Regions from separate parts of the Homo sapiens genome. Here region 2 is linked to region 1. A link means that fine-mapping ties the variant in region 1 to the expression of a gene that starts in the linked region. Tissue or cell type: whole blood. Region 1 holds a variant in brackets; the other region holds the start of a gene. All regions are shown on one strand. Distances are between the middles of the regions.

The links. PIP is the estimated chance that this variant, and not a neighbour inherited with it, causes the effect.
Region 2: PDLIM7 starts here. The variant in region 1 is fine-mapped to the expression of PDLIM7 in whole blood (TOPMed, PIP above 0.99).

The regions. Positions count from the first base shown.
Region 1 is chr5:177,559,566-177,567,652 of GRCh38, reverse strand. FAM193B-DT (FAM193B divergent transcript) reads right to left here. Exons shown (of 3, transcript XR_941274.3): 2 at 2,060-2,179. Among named protein-coding and RNA genes, the nearest start is that of FAM193B-DT, 9.0 kb to the right of the region's middle. RefSeq lists a cis regulatory region at 6,144-6,312. The variant A/C (reference allele first, on the strand shown) is at 4,357.
Region 2 is chr5:177,492,536-177,500,623 of GRCh38, reverse strand. PDLIM7 (PDZ and LIM domain 7) reads left to right here and starts at 3,020. Exons shown (of 13, transcript NM_005451.5): 1 at 3,020-3,096; 2 at 4,101-4,207; 3 at 7,947-8,088. The coding sequence starts at 4,112. RefSeq lists enhancers at 1,407-2,146, 2,365-2,414, 3,627-4,368, 7,705-8,088 and silencers at 2,625-3,334, 3,745-3,824, 5,522-5,816, 5,763-5,912.

The DNA.
Region 1 (8,087 bases):
ACCACGCATTTTCAGATGTGTAGGTGAGACCCTTCTTAATGTCCAGTGATGAGGACTCATTGTTCCTATTTGGTTTGCCTATTTCAGCAGGCGCTCAGAAAAGGCTATGCATCAGAAGCATGGATGTGGAGAGCCATTTCAGAACGGAAACTACTGAAACCCTCAGTTACATTATGACATCTATTAGAAAATTCACTCTGGGGCGGTGCATGGCAGGGCTGGAAGGTATAAATGTCTGGAGGCAGGGGGCCCTGAGATAAGGCTGTTATTGTCCAACAGAGCAGTGACGACTTCGCTATCTTTCCGTAATAAGTCATTTTGTTAGCTGACCTTTTTTCTTTCTTTCTTTTTTTTTTTTTTTTTTTTTTTTTTTGATGAAGTCTTGCTCTTGTCGCCCAGGCTGGAGTGCAATGGCACGATTTCAGCTCACTGCAACCTCCACCTCCTGGGTTCAAGCAATTCTTCTGCCTCAGCTTCCCAAAATGCTGGGATTACAGCATGAGCCACTGCACACAGCCTTGTTAGCTGACTTCTGACGGGCAGGCTGCATTAGTTATTGGAGGCACTGAGAACCACACACTGCATTTCTATTTTTTGAGAGGGAGTCTCACTCTGTTGCCCAGGCTGGAGTGCAGTGGTGGGATCTCGGCTCACTGTAACCTCCACCTCCCAGATTCAAGTCATTCTCCTGCCTCAGCCTCCTGAGTAGCTGGGATTACAGGCATGAGCCACTGTGCCTGCCCACATACCACATTTCAAGATGCCCTGGACTTTAACTGTCTGTGCCAGGCTCTTGTTAGGGTGCTCTTGTTTTTGGACACCCTACTGTATGTGCCAGGCACTGTGCTAACGTCTCCATTTATATCTCACAATGCCATAAGACACTCTTTTTGTTTGTTTGTTTTTCAGATGGTGTCTCACTCTGTTGCCCAGGCAGGAGTGCAGTGAAGTAATCTTGGCTCACTGCACTCTCCACCTCCCAGGTTCAAGCCATTCTCCTGCCTCAGCCTCCCAGGTAGCTGGGATTACAGGTGCACACCACCACACCCAGCTAACTTTTGCATTTTTAGTAGAGACAGGGTTTTACCATGTTGGCAAGGCTGGTCTCGAGCTCCTGGCCTCAAGTGATCCATTCACCTCGACCTCCTGAAGTGCTGGGATTATAGGCGTGAGCCACCACACCCAGCCAAGACACTACTTTTATCCCTGTTCTCTAGATGGTGAGACTGAGACCCAGAGAAACTGAGGACTTTCCTGGAGTCACGCAGCTAGCAAGTGGCAGAGCTTTTAACTTAACTCTGTCTGACTCCCAAGCCTTTCCACTACAATGTACAGCAGAGTGAGTCCACAGATGGCTTCAAAGAAGAAGGCACCCTTGACCTGGTCCTTGAAGGATCAGCACAAGTTTATCAGCCCTGGGAGGCATAAGGGAGAGAATCCAGAGAGTTGAGCACATCAAAGTTGTAAGATGTGGCTAAAACCCAGGGTTCAAGGTGGAGAGTGATGGGGAAAGATGCTGCTGTCAGGCAAAGTCCAGAAGGAAATACCAGGCCTGGGCTGAGCGTGGTGGCTCACCCCTGTAATCCCAGCACTTTGGAAGGCCAGAGGCAGGCGGATCACTTGAGGTCAGGAGTTTGAGACCAGCCTGGCAAACATGGCAAAACTCCGTCTCTATTACAAATACAAAAATTAGCCGGGTATGGCGGCGCATGCCTGTAGTCCCAGCTACTCAGGAGGCTGAGGCAGAAGAATTGCTTGAACCCAGGAGGCGGAGGTTGCGGTGAGCCAAGATCTCGCCACTGCACTCCAGCCTGGGCGACAGAGCGAGACTCCGACTCAAAAAAAAAAAAAAAGAAAGAAAGAAAGAAAAAAAAAATACTTGGCACTTATTCTTCAGGCAGGGGGCCTCCTGAGTTGTTGTAAGCAGGGGTGACAGGGCCAGACTTAGTGTTTCAAGATAGCACTGGGAGCAGCATCAAGACTGGTTTGGACAGTGGTTCTCCACAGTACTGTGTTTGAGAATCACCTGGAGGTTTGTAAAAAAAAAAAAAAAAAATACCTGAAATCCACCTCAAAGTGTCTGATTCAGTGGGGCTGGAGAGTGGCCCACGGATCTGCATGTCAGTCCATTTTCCAAGTTTTTATGACACAAGTGGTCACTTGAGGAAACACCAGTAATCTAGAAGGGAGAAGAAGCAAGGAGATTAGTTACCAAGCTGCTGCCAGAAGTAAATGATGAGTCCTGAACTTGAACAGTGGTGAGGAAAATGGAAACAACAGGATAACGTTTGTCTAATGTTGCCATTTGTTTTTCTTTTTCTCTAGTAATTCACATCTGCCCTCCCACCCCCGCTCTCAAATAGCTAGTCCATTCTGTGCTCATTGCACCTCAGGGGCGGGACATGACGGTGCAGAAAACAGAAACAAGAGTTCTGGTTATGATGCACTGGATTTGTTTCAACACAGGCGTGGGGAGAGAAGGTAGAGGTACAGATGAATCAAACAGGCCATGTGTGCCAGGCGCGGTGGCTCACACCTATAATCCCAGCACTTTGGGAGGCCGAGGAGGATGGATCACCTGAGGTCAGGAGTTCAAGACCAGCCTGGCCAACATGGTGAAACCCTGTCTCTACTAAAAATACAAAAATTAGCTGACCATGATGGCAGGTGCCTATATTCCCAGCTACTCGGGAGGATGAGGCAGGAGAATCACTTGAACCTGGGAGGCAGAGGTTTCAGTGAGCTGAGATCATGTCATTGCACTCCAGCCTGGGAGACAGAGCGAGACTTTGTCTCAAAAAAAAAAAAAAAAAATAGGCCATGTGCGAGATAAGATGGTGCATCCCTGTAGTCCCAGCTACGTGGGAGCCTGGGAAGTGAGGATTGCTTGGACCCAGGAATATGAGTCCATCCTGGGTGACAGAGCAAGATCTCTTCTCTTTAAAAAATGGCCAGCCAGGCACGATGGCTCACGCCTGTAATCCCAGCACTTTGGGAGGCCGAGGCAGGTGGATCACGAGGTCAGGAGATCGAGACCAGCCTGGTAACACAGTGAAACCCCGTCTACTGAAAATACAAAAAATTAGCCGGGCATGGTGGCACGTGCCTGTAGTCCCAGCTACTCGGGAGGCTGAGGCAGGAGAATAGTGTGAACCCGGGAGGCAGAGCTTGCAGTGAGCTGAGATCGTGCCATTGCACTCCAGCCTGGGCAACAGAGTGAGACTCCGTCTCAAAAAAAAAAAAGAAAAAGTGGCCATGAGTTGATAGCTGCTGAAGCTGACTGATGGTTGCATGAGGACATGGGGATTTATTACGGAATTCTGTCTATACTTGTCTATGTTTTAAAGGTCTGTAATAAAAATATCTTTAAAAATATTTCTGGATTTGGTTTCAAAAGGACTTAGAGAAAAGAAGTCTCAGACATAGCTGAAAAGTTCCAAGAAACATCAAGAGCAAGAGGAGAGGGAGGAAGGATTAGGAGAGATGCCTATTCCTCACTCTTTCCAGGTGGTAGGGCCCCACAGGCCTGCTACTTCTGCATCATGGGGAGAGAATGAGTCCTCTGATCAGTGCGTCTGGAGAATCGGGTGCATGATCTGCTCTGTTCTGCCCTTCTTCCTCTTGGGATCTCCCTGCCTACAATGGGTCCACACCCACTGCCCCTACAGGGATTCTGAGAGGGAGGCCTACCCAGCCCAGTACTGCCACAACTCAGGGGCTGCGGGGGGTGTCTGCCTAACTTGGGGGCTCAGTCATCAGCCCACACCAAGCAACATACTCTGACCTGGGGCATGACTTAGTTGGTAATAAGGCTGATATTGTGACTCCATCTGCCTTTCCTTTGCTTCATTTCCCAGTGTGTTTAGAACCCTGGTCAGGGAGACAGGGCCATCTCTTGAGGGTCTTCCAGAGACCCTAAAACAGAGGTTTCTGGAGGCTAGAGAAAAGGAAGGAAGGAAGTGAAGAAGAGAATGGAGGTAAGTGACAACAACATCTGAGGGGCCCAGAGAGGGGGCACAAAATCCAAGAGCAGAGGGAACTTATCCCAGGAAGCAGGAACAGTCAGCATGGAACGCCAATGAGGTGTGTCTAGGAGAAGACCTTAGATAGCCTCACCCAGATTCCCACAGGCAAGAATGGCTGGAGGAGGAAAGCCAGCTGTGGGGAAGAACGAGCCAGGTCTCAGCACCAACCAGTGGGGACCAATGACCTCTCCATGAATGCCTGTGGGGACAGATGACACTAAGAACTAGATTCCCCCAACACACACACTCATAAGGCCCTGAGCCCTTATGCACAGCCTCAGGGAACCCTAAATTAGCTGAGATTAAATTTCTGTCACTCCAGCAGAGTGCC[A/C]AGTGGAAATTAGGTGGAGTTATAGAAAACTTTATATTTCTTGCACACGTGGGTTTATGAACAGAGATTCATCCTAACCGGAGTAAATATTTTGGAAGCAGAATCAACAAGACTTAGAGGTCAGATGAAGCCGGAGTGGTGAACAACAGGAAGTCTCTCCTCCCTTATTTGGGAGGTTTGTTTCCTAAACACCCCAGGCAAATTCAGGTTCTTCAACACTGTCTGTGATGTTTTATTCCTTCCCCTGGTGGTGTTCCCTCATAGGGCCTTTAGTGTAGGTTTAATTGTTCTTGCCCAGTTAAGTAATAATCAGGAGTAATTACCATTTACTTTAATAATGCAATCTAGTAGCAATTTACTATTCGTAGAAAAAGAGTATCTGTTAAAAATATACCATTAAAACTTTTAATAATAGTTACTATAACATTTAGGCCTGGAAAAGATCAAGGCAAAGTCCAGCAGGCTTCACCTCCCCAGAGGGCCTTACCTGGATTTCCCTATTTCCTTCTTCCTCTGTGCCCCAGCTCCATCACCCTAGAGGAAGGTCCAATCTCACCCTGGGATTCAAGATCCCTCATACCCGACCCCATCTCTCACCCTCTGCAACCATATTTCCTCTCCTCTAAACTCCTTTTGCCCAAAGGTGCAAGCCCATTCTCAAGGTTAGAAGGAGGAGGACTGAGGAAGAGGGGATCAGAGTTGGTTTCCTCCCTCAAAAAGTGCTAAGAAATCCCTCTGTCTGGCTGAGGTCCAACTCCAGAACTCAAGGAGAGGAAGGGGCTTGGATCTGCTTTCCTCTGTGATGAGGGGGATTGGACAGATGGTGCTCAGTGACTTCCCTGGGGCTGGCTGAAGCACACACCTGTGAGGCTCATTAGCACCCAACATTACCTGTGCCGATGGGAAACAATGCTGAAATGGTAATCTAGTTTACATTGCCCTTGCAATTTCCCCTTCCTTCCTCTCCACGCGAGCAACTAGGGATTCCATGCCTGTTGCCTTGGGAGGGGAGACTAAGTCACAGGGTGGAAAGGAGGAGGCCTTGCAAACCATCCTGGATTTGGGGTTCCAAAAGCCCAAGCGCTTAGTGGCTTTCAAAACTTTTACTTGCAGTGGCGTGGTGGTTCATACCTGTAATCCCAGCACTTTGGAAGGCCAAGGTGTGTAGGGTCCAGCCCCACAGGGTCAGTGGGTTTTTCTCCCCGTGTGCAGAGACGAGAGATTGTAGAAATAAAGACACAAGACAAAGAGATAAAAGACAGCTGGGCCCAGGGGACCACTACCACCAAGACACAGAGACCAGTAGTGGCCCCGAATGCCTGGCTGCACTGTTATTTATTGGATACAAAGCAAAAAGGGCAGGGTAAAGAGTGTGAGTCATCTCCAATGATTGATAAGGTCTCGTGAGTCACGTGTCCACTGGACAGGGGCCCCCTCCCTGTTTGACAGCCAAGGCGGGGGGAGAGAGAGAGAGAGGACAGCTTACGCCATTATTTCTGCATATCAGAGACTTTTAGTACTTTCACTAATTTTGCTACTGTTATCTAAAAGGCAGAGCCAGGTGCACAGGATGGAACATGAAGGCGGACTAGGAGCGTGACCACTGAAGCACAGCATCACAGGGAGACGGTTAGGCCTCCGGATAACCGTGGGCTGGCCTGACTGATGTCAGGCCCTCCACAAGAGGTGGAGGAGTAGAGTCTTCTCTAAACTCCCCCGGAGAAAGGGAGACTCCCTTTCCCGGTCTGCTAAGTAGCGGGTGTTTTCCTTGGCACTGACACTACTGCTAGACCACGGTCTGCTTGGCAACGGGCGTCTTCCCAGATGCTGGCGTTATGGAGACCAAGGAGCCCTCTGGTGGCCCTGTCCAGGCATAACAGAAGTCTCCCACTCTTGTCTTCTGGTCACTTCTCACTATATCCCTTCAGCTCCTATCTCTGTATGGCTCGGTTTTTCCTAGGTTATGATTGTACAGCAAGGATTATTATAATACTGGAATATAGAGTAATTGCTACAAACTAATGATTAATGATATTCATATATAATCATGTCTATGATCTAGATCTAGTATAACTCTTATTGTTTTATATATTTTATTATACTGGAACAGCTCGTGTCCTTGGTCTCTTGCCTTGGCACCTGGGTGGCTTGCTGCCCACAAAGGTGGGTGGATCACTTGAGATCAGGAGTTCAAGACCAGCCTGGCCAACATGGTGAAACTCTGTCTCTACTAAACATACAAAAATTAGCCGGGTGTGGTGGCACACGCTTGCAATCCCAGCTACTCGGGAGGCTGAGGCAGGAGACTCACTTGAACCCGGGAGGTGGAGGTTGCAGTGAGCCGAGATTGTGCCACTGCACTCTAGCCTGGGGGACAGAGCAAGACTCCGTCTCAAAAAAAAAAAAACTTTTACTTGTATGTCCCCTAAAAGCAGTTAAAAACTTTTACTTGTATGTCCCCTAAAAACAGTTAAAAACTATACAACTTATGTAGCTCGTCCTGTGTCCTGCAACATAAATTATAGTGCCCAGAGCAAAATGAAAATGTGGGCCCTTTGTTCAAACATTAAGAACTTCAAGGCTGGGAGTGGTGGCTCACGCCTGTAATCCCAGCACTTTGGGAGGCCGAGGCGGGTGGATCACGAGGGCAGGAGATGGAGACCATCCTGGCTAACACGGTGAAACCTCGTCTCTACTAAAAATACAAAAAAATTAGCCGGCGTGGTGGTGGGCGCCTGTAGTCCCAGCTACTCGGGAGGCTGAGGCAGAATGGCGTGAACCCGGGAGGCGGAGCTTTCAGTGAGCTGAGATCGCGCCACTGCACTCCAGCCTGGGCGAAAGAGCGAGACTCCATCTCCAAAAATAAATAAAGAAAGAAAGAATTTGGGGGGGGGTCAGCCCCCCGCCCGGCCAGCCGCCCAGTCCGGGAGGTGAGGGGCGCCTCTGCCTGGCCGCCCCTACTGGGAAGTGAGGAGCCCCTCTGCCTGGCCAGCCGCCCCGTCCGGGAGGGAGGTGGGGGGGTCAGCCCCCCGCCCGGCCAGCCGCCCCGTCCGGGAGGGAGGTTGGGGGGTCAGTCCCCCGCCCGGCCAGCCGCCCCGTCCGGGAGGTGAGGGGCGCCTCTGCCCGGCCGCCCCTACGGGGAAGTGAGGAGCCCCTCTGCCCGGCCAGCCGCCCCGTCTGGGAGGGAGGTGGGGGGGTCAGCCCCCTGCCCGGCCAGCCGCCCCATCCGGGAGGTGAGGGGTGCCTCTGCCCGGCCGCCCCTACAGGGAAGTGAGGAGCCCCTCTGCCCGGCCACCACCCCATCTGGGAGGTGTGCCCAACAGCTCATTGAGAACGGGCCAGGATGACAATGGCGGCTTTGTGGAATAGAAAGGGGGGAAAGGTGGGGAAAAGATTGAGAAATTGGATGGTTGCCGTGTCTGTGTAAAAAGAAGTAGACATGGGAGACTTTTCATTTTGTTCTGTACTAAGAAAAATTCTTCTGCCTTGGGATGCTGTTAATCTATAACCTTACCCCCAACCCCGTGCTCTCTGAAACATGTGCTGTGTCAACTCAGGGTTAAATGGATTAAGGGCGGTGCAAGACGTGCTTTGTTAAACAGATGCTTGAAGGCAGCATTCTCATTAAGAGTCATCACCACTCCCTAATCTCAAGTACCCAGGGACACAAACGCTGCGGAAGGCCGCAGGGTCCTCTGCCTAGGAAAAGCAGAGACGCTTGTTCACATGTT
Region 2 (8,088 bases), 67 kb after region 1:
TCAGCTGTGATCAGGAAAGGCCCTGGGAGGAGGCCACATCTGAGCAGAGACCTAAATAAAGTTGGAAACCTGTTGCTGAGATATCTGGAGAAGTGTTTCAAGGGCCGGGCACCGGGCATGGTGGCTCACGCCTGTAATCCCAGCACTTTGGGAGGCCAAGGCAGGTGGATCGCTGGAGGTCAGGAGTTTGAGAGCAGCCTGACCAACATGGAGAAACCCCATCTCTACTAAACATATAAAAATTATCCGGGCATGGTGGTTCATGCCTGTAGTCCCAGCTACTCGGGAGGTTGAGGCAGGAGAATCACTTGAACGTGGGAGGCAGAGGTTGCAGCAAGCCGAGATCACACCACTGCACTCCAGCCTGGATGACAGAGCGAGACTCCGTCTCAAAAAAAAAAAAGAAAAGAAAAAAGAAAAAAAAAGAAAAGTGTTTCAAGCAGGGGAACTGGCAAGTGGAGAGGCCCTGAGGCAGAAATATGCTTGGCCTGCTGGAGGAAATGTGAGTGAGGAGGTCAGGGTGGCTGGAGTGGAGGGAGCGAGTGGTAGGAGTCAGACCCAGTTTATTCATATTCTGTAGGTCTTAAGGACTTCAGTTTTATTTTGAGTGCAATATGAGCCCACTGGAATGCTAAAAGCTGAGAGTGACATGGTGCTGTGATTCTGGCTTTAAAAATATCACTTTGGCTGCTTCGTGAAGACTCTGGAAGGGGCAAGGGTGAAAGCAGGGATGCCCGTTAGGAGACCGTTACAGGGGCGCAGGCACAAAATGGCAGTGGCTGGGACAATGGTGGCAGCAGCGGTTAGATGTGAACATGTTGAAGGTGGAATTTGCAGAATCTGGGGGAGGACAGAAGAGAAAGGATAACTTCATCGTTTCTGCTGAACCAGTTGGATAAATGTTGGTGGCACTTCTTGAAGTGAGGAAGGAGTTAGGAAGGTGGGAAAGGCACAAGTTTGAATTGGGCCATGATGGTCTGAGATACCTAGTACAGTGGTTCCCCAACCTTTTTGGCAGAAGGGACCGCTTTCATGGAAGACAATTTTTCCACAGACTGGGGGTGGGGTGGGGATGGTTTCAGGGTGGTTCGAGTGCAGTACATTTATCATTAGACTCTTTTTTTTTTTTTTTTTTTGAGATAGAGTCTCGCTCTGTCACCCACACTGGAGTGCAGTGGAGCCATCTTGGCTCACTACAACCTCTGCTGCCCAGGTTCAAGTCATTCTCCTGCCTCAGCCTCTCAAGTAGCTGGGATTATAGGCATATGCGCCACCACGCCCAGCTAATTTTTGTATTTTTAGTAGAGACGGGGTTTCACCATATTGGCCAGGATGGTCTCGAACTCCTGACCTCAAGTGATCCTCCCCCGCCTCAACCTCCCAAAGTGCTGGGGTTACAGGCGTGAACCACTGCACCCGGCCCATTTATCATTAGATTCTCATAAGGAATGAGCAACCTAGATCCCTCGCATGCACAGTTCACAATAGGGTTCACGCTCCTATGGGAGTCTAATGCTGCCGCTGCACTCAGCTTCTCTGGCTTGCCGCTGCTCACCTTCTGCTGTGCAGCCCAGTTCCTAACAGGCCACAAACGGGGAGTTGGGGACCCCTGATCTAGTAAACATCTAGGCAGGGTTTTGGATAATGGAGTTAGAGTTCCTGGGGAGAGGTCAGGCTGGCCATGAAACATGGGATGCCTTTGCATATAGGTGGTGTTGAAAGCCACAGGACAGTACGGGGTCTCAGGGGGTGAGCATAAAGAGAGGCGACATCAGATGGCCAAGGCCAGAGGCAGAGGAGGATGGGAAGGAGGGGCCAGTGGGGCAGGGGGAAGCTGTGAAGCCAGGGAAAAAGGGTGTTTCGCGGAAAAGGATCAACCTGGACCAGTGCTGCCCCTAGGCAGGGCAGGATGAAACTTAACCACCACGGATTCCATGGCCCCATGGCCTCCAGGCCACAGGGGACCTTGAGAAGAGAGATCTCAGGGGACGGGTGCGGACAAGAGCCCGCCTGGCATGGCTTCAAGAGATAACTGAAGGAAAGCAAGTGGAGACGCGATAAACAGACAACTCCCTGGAGGAATTTTACTCTCGAGAGGAGAATTAAAGGGTAGTAGCTGGAGAGGGATGTGGGGTCAAGAGAAGGTCTTTAACGACGAGAACTCTCACGGCGGTTTGTGCAGAACAGGGTGGGTGTGATGACTGTGGATGGAGAGGGGAGAACTGCAGCGACTCTGTCCTAGGAGGAGGTGATGGGCCGGGACCACCAAGCGAGTGGAGGGTGGACGCCCCTTCCCTCACCCCGACACCCGCATGTGCTCAGTGTCCGTGCCGCCGGCCCTAGTGCCTGGGCTGAACGCGGGGCCGGGACTCTGAGGACGCCTCCCAGGCGGCGCAGTCCGCTCTGGCCAAGGTGGAGCGGGACGCGGCGCTTCCGACGGTGCGCGGGTCGGCTCGGGGTTGCAGGGACATCCGGCGTCCGCTCCTGCCCTGTTTTCCTGCCTTCGGCAGAGCGTTGCGCAACTCTAGCTTTAAACGCCCCTGTCCCCCTCAACTTGTCTCCCCCAGCCCCTCTGATTTACAGATTCTGCAGTCCCCGAGGGTTGCGCCTACGATACCGACACTCGCGGCAGCCCTGCGAGGCGAGTATGATCGTCCCATTTTTCGGAGTAGCAAACTAAGGTTCAGAGACTACTATGTCCCAGGTCGGTCTGGTTTGAAGGTCCGCTTTCCTCTCCCTCCGCCAGCGGGCGGTGCGAGGGACTGGGCGAGGCAGCGCTTCCCTAAGGAGGCGACCCGCAGCCCCGGCCCCCTCCCGACTCCGCCCCGTTGCAGGGCCCGGGTCGGCGAGGCCTCTCAGCTCTAAGCCCGACGGGACTTGGTGATTGGGCAGGACGGAAGAGCTGGGTGGGGCTTTCCACCAGCGGAGAAAGTCTAGTGGGCGTGGTCGCGACGAGGGCGTGGCCTGGTGCCCCGCCCCCGTCCGCGCGCTCAAAGTGGAGGGTGGCTGTGGGGGCGGGGTCAGAACACTGGCGGCCGATCCCAACGAGGCTCCCTGGAGCCCGACGCAGAGCAGCGCCCTGGCCGGGCCAAGCAGGTATCGACGACCGCGCGGGGCGTCTTGGGCTGCACCAGGCGGGCGCCCGGGGCCTGCTGAGGACCACAAAGGGCACTGGGGGTCGTGGTCCAGGCTGTGCTTCCTCCCGCTGGCCCTGGCCCCTGCCTCCGCCCCCGCCCCCGCCTTCCTGCCGCTAAGCCGGCTGCGGCGGGGCCGATTGGCGCCTGCGCCGCTTCCTGCGGCCGGGGCCAGTCTAATGCATGGGGCCCGGGCGGGGGACTAAGGGGAAACTGAGTCACGTCGGTGTGGGAGCAGTTCTGTGTGGGAGGCACCACCCCCCACTGGGCTCGGGGAAGGATCCCCCTCCAAGCTATGCTTGAGGGTCCCAGCCCCCATCTGTCTCCACAGGGGCCGCACCCCACTCCCGCCTTCCCCTTCTTCAGCACCCAGGGGTCCCGCCCTGGCTCCCAGCAGCCTCGACTGGTCCCGGAATGGCTAGGAGGATCCGCTGCAGCCGCCTCCCTCCCCTCCCCTCCCCTCCCCTCCCCTCCCCCCCCCCTCGCGTCCCAAGCCCCCGTGTGCTCCCTCCGCTGGCTCTCCGCACAGTGTCAGCTTACACGCCTTATATAGTCCGAGCAGGCTCCAGCCGCGGCCTGCCTGCCGGGACCTGGGGGCGGGGGAGAGGAGAGCCGGCCCCTGACTCACCCGGCCGCCCGAGGCTCCAGGCTGGCTTGGGGGGAGGCCGCGCCAGTTTAGTCCCTCGGCCCACCCCTGGTTGCAAAGAACCTCAAGCCTGGATTCAGGCACCCCTCACCGTTCCAGTCCCAAGGGGAGGGGGGCTGCTCCTGTCTTTCCAAAGTGAGGTCCGCCAGCCAGCAGCCCAGGCCAGCCTGACAAAATACCTGCCTCCTATGGCTTGGGCGTGCTCAGGGGCTGCCCGTGCCTGCCTGGCCCCTGTCCAAGGCTGGTATCCTGAGCTGGCCCGGCCTGCCTGCCTGCCCGCCCACCATGCTGGCCACTCACCTTCTCTTCTCTCCTCTCAGGAGCCGGCATCATGGATTCCTTCAAAGTAGTGCTGGAGGGGCCAGCACCTTGGGGCTTCCGGCTGCAAGGGGGCAAGGACTTCAATGTGCCCCTCTCCATTTCCCGGGTGAGCCTAGGTTTGGGGAGGGGGCTCCCCCAGCGGTCTTTCGGTGCTTAGGTCTCCAGAGGGTGATGGGGGGAGTCCTAACAGGAGCTGGTCAGGGGCCAGCAGGCCAGGAGATGTCTAGGTCCGGAGATGTAGTGGTACCTGCCTGCCACAAGGACTCCCAATGAGGTGGATACTGGGAGGGAGCACCCAGGCTTCTCCAGCCCTGCACTGTACCCGATGCTGTTCTCCCAAGCTCCTGTGGCCACCTCTGAGGGCTGGAGGGAGGCTCATTGTGCAGGATGGGAGCCTAACATTTCAGGAGGTATCTAAACTTGAGGTGGCAATGCTTGGAGCCAGGCCCCAGGCAGGACACTGTGACTATAGGATTTCACTTCAGCCTCACTGCCGCCCAGGGAATAGCAATCCTCATCCCGTTTTTCCAGATGAGAGAAGAACTCATGGAGAGGTGGCGGGGCTCGCTCATCGAGTCCATGGTGAAGCAGGGATTGGAATTGAGGCACAGCATGGCGTACATTTTTTGTGGGTAGAAGGGGTCTCTCCCCAGCCTATGTAAGGACCCACATCCACTGTTCCCATTCAGGATGTGGTGGCCTTTGACCCCAAGCAGAAGTGTAGGACAGGGCTCCATTCTAGGGGCTTAACTTCAGCTTCCAAGAGCCTGCCCTGGTGTGGGTGGAGCTGGAGGCTGGCTCCTCCCTGTAGCAGGGGGATTGCCTTATAAGCCCAAGAATGCAGCCCCACGCTGGGATGGCCAACAGTGGCTGCGGTCTGCAGAGCTGAAAAGGGCTGGCCTAGGCCTGGCCCCCTGAACCCCACTGGTGGGCCTCTCAGCTGGTCACCAGGCTGCAGCTCCAGCTATATGGTCCAGTTGTGAGACACAACAAATTGCCTGCCCAGAGTGGGTGAGGCCAGCCTGTCGGCTGGCATCTCTGACTGGCCTGGGGGTCAGGAGGGGGTGGGGACTTCCTGCCCCTATATCCGCCTGCCCCAAGAGACCCACCCAGGCGCCGGGTGGGCAGGCAGCTGTTGTCAGGAAGCCCAAGGCAAGCCCAGCCTGGAGGGGCCCAGAGGGTCGTGGCCTGAGGAGGGGCTCAAGCTGGAGTCTGTCTGTAGGAGCTGGGCGTGGGGGTTAGGGTGGGCAGGCCAGCAGTGCTCTTCTCAGGGGTCCTTTGATGGCATTCTCCTGGAACCTGCCCCGCCAGCAGGGTAGTGAGGCAGTGGTTGCCCTATGACACACGTCCCACTACATAGCCCTCACACAGCCCTGAAACCTACCTGACGTCCTGCTCCCTGGGAAAGTGCTGGCCCAGTGTGTCTGGGGAGCCTGAACCTCAGTTTCTTCCCTGATGGAGATGACTTTCAGATATGGCCTGTTGGGGGCACTCCGGGCTCCAGCTCCCTGGTCAGCATCCCTGGCATGTGGGCGGGGCCACTAGCTGATCCCAGCCCTGGAGTTGGACCTGGGCCCACATGGGTGGGTGAGGTGGGCTTTTCTGAGTTAGGCCAGCCCCCTCCCCCTCCCCTGACCCCAGAATGGAGGGAGGTGGGAGGGGCAAGGGCTGGCTGTGGGCCCAGGCCTGGGAGATGAGGTAACGTCTGGGACTGGGGGGCTGGGCTGCTCAGGCTGACTCACCCCCACCTCATGCAGGGTCCAGCCCCCTGGCTTTTTCCCTCCTTGGTTCCTCTGGCCTTACCCTGCCCCTGGCTTGAGCCCCTCCCTGCCTCTCTCCAGCCACCCGCCCAGCGCTGTCTTCTGCTCTCCTGCTGCCCTCCCCACGCTCTGAACACCCCTCATCCTCTGTGCTTCCTGCCCTCCTCACTCTGGGAAGGGAAGCCGTCCCCGCCCCCCACCCCCTCTCCAGGAGCCAGCTAGCTGCACCCCAAGACCCCCACCTCGGGCTCAGCCCACAGCTCCCAGGAGCCAGCCCTGTGGGCAGGGAGTGGCTGGGCCAGGTTTCCCTTCTACTGACTCACCATGACCTTGAGTAAGTCACTTCCCCTCTGGGGTGTCACTTCCCCATACACAGTATAAGGGGTTGATTTAGTTGGATTGAACTAAAGGTGAGGGAGTGGCTCAGGGTGTCTCCAGGTGGGCTGACCCCTCAGTTGGGCCCCCATGCTCAGCAGAGGTGGCCCACAGTGGTGGAGCCTTAGGGTCAGAGACACTTCCTGGCTCTGCCTCTTACTAGCTGGGTGACTTGAGGCAAGTTGTTTAACCTCTCTGTGTACATTTGCAAGTGCAAAATGGGTAAAATCCCAGATTACTCCACAAGGTTGTTGGAAGATTCAGTGTCAATATGTAGCATAGTTGGTGCTCAATAAACTGAAGCAAGTCTTCTTATCTAGCGAGTGAGGAAGGGGCCGCCGAGCTCTCTTAGCCTTCTGACCTCCTACGCAAGCAAGAGGTCATGTTGAGCCCAGCTCGCCTTTCTTTTCCCAGTGCTGTCAAGCTCTGTGCCTGGCTGCCCTGCCCTCTGACATCTCTCTGAAACCTCTTGCCTCCCCTCTCCCTGCCTCAGCTCAGTCTGTGCACTGACCCACCTGAGGAGCCTCCTGGGGCCACTGGCAGCCTGGACCCCCCCAGATCCCCCCCACCCAGTGAAATTGTCTTCCAGCACTGCCTCACAAAAGCCTACTTGATGCAGTGCCAGGCCTCTTGCCAGATGGCTGGGTGGTCCCTTAGGCTTGGACCCAGTCAAGCTGCCCTGCCTGTGTTGCTGGGGCTGGGCTAGAGGCCTGGAAGGGGTTTATCAGGGTCACCCTCTCAGGGCCTGGGAGATACCCAATCCCAGACATTAAAACTGCCAGTAGCCCCTCTACCTTCAAAGCCAAGTCCTGGTCCCTTCCCCTGGCATTCAAAGCCATCGTAAGTGAACTCTCACCCGCTAGGCAGCACACGCCATTCTCCTTTACCGAGGCCCACCGCTTCCTCAAAGTCATTCCTGATGGTCTCAGCTCATGCTGGTGGCAGCCATTTCTCCCAGCCTACTGTCTCTACTCATTGCCACAGGAACCAGGGACTCCCAGCTCAAGAGCCTGAAGGATTGGGGTCAGGGGAAATTGGCAGTCGAGGGCTTGGGAGTGACAGCCATGTATGGCCTACGAAGTCCCAGCTGTCAACTTAGGTCCCATTCAGGCAGTGTTCACAGGGAACCGGGAGATAACAGGGCCTGTTCCTGGCTCTCAAAGGGTCCCAGCAGACCCCTATAGATGGCCCCCGACAGGGTGCTGGGGGGTGAGAGGTCCATAAGAGCCCCCGGTGGTTTCGGGGAGGAAGCTGCCCCCTGCATGGGCCAGAGGGCATATCTGGTAGGTGGAGTGGCCTGGGCAGGAGGCCAGCAGGAGCCTCAAAAGGCAATGGTCCTCCTGAAACACTTGGGCTTTAGCCTGAGCGTGGCTGTTTGTGGACATCATAGCAATTTCTGGACTGTGGGGGAGGGTGGTGGCGGTGAATAGATAAGCATCGTGACTGGGGAAGCTCAGGTGAGCACCACCTGAGGGAGAGGGTCTGGCAGTGAATAAATAAGCAGTGTGACTGGGAAATTGTGAAGCTCAGGTGAGCGCCACCACCTCCTGGGTTGCTTTAGTGTCCAGCAGCTGCCTAGAACTATGTTGAATGAAGAGCTCTCTGGGTTCTGGAAGTGGGACAGCTTTGGGTGGGGCAGTGTTACCACCGTCAGCCTGGCTTGGGTCTGCAGGGTCCAGGGCCTCGGTCACTTTGCTTCTCTCTCCACAGCTCACTCCTGGGGGCAAAGCGGCGCAGGCCGGAGTGGCCGTGGGTGACTGGGTGCTGAGCATCGATGGCGAGAATGCGGGTAGCCTCACACACATCGAAGCTCAGAACAAGATCCGGGCCTGCGGGGAGCGCCTCAGCCTGG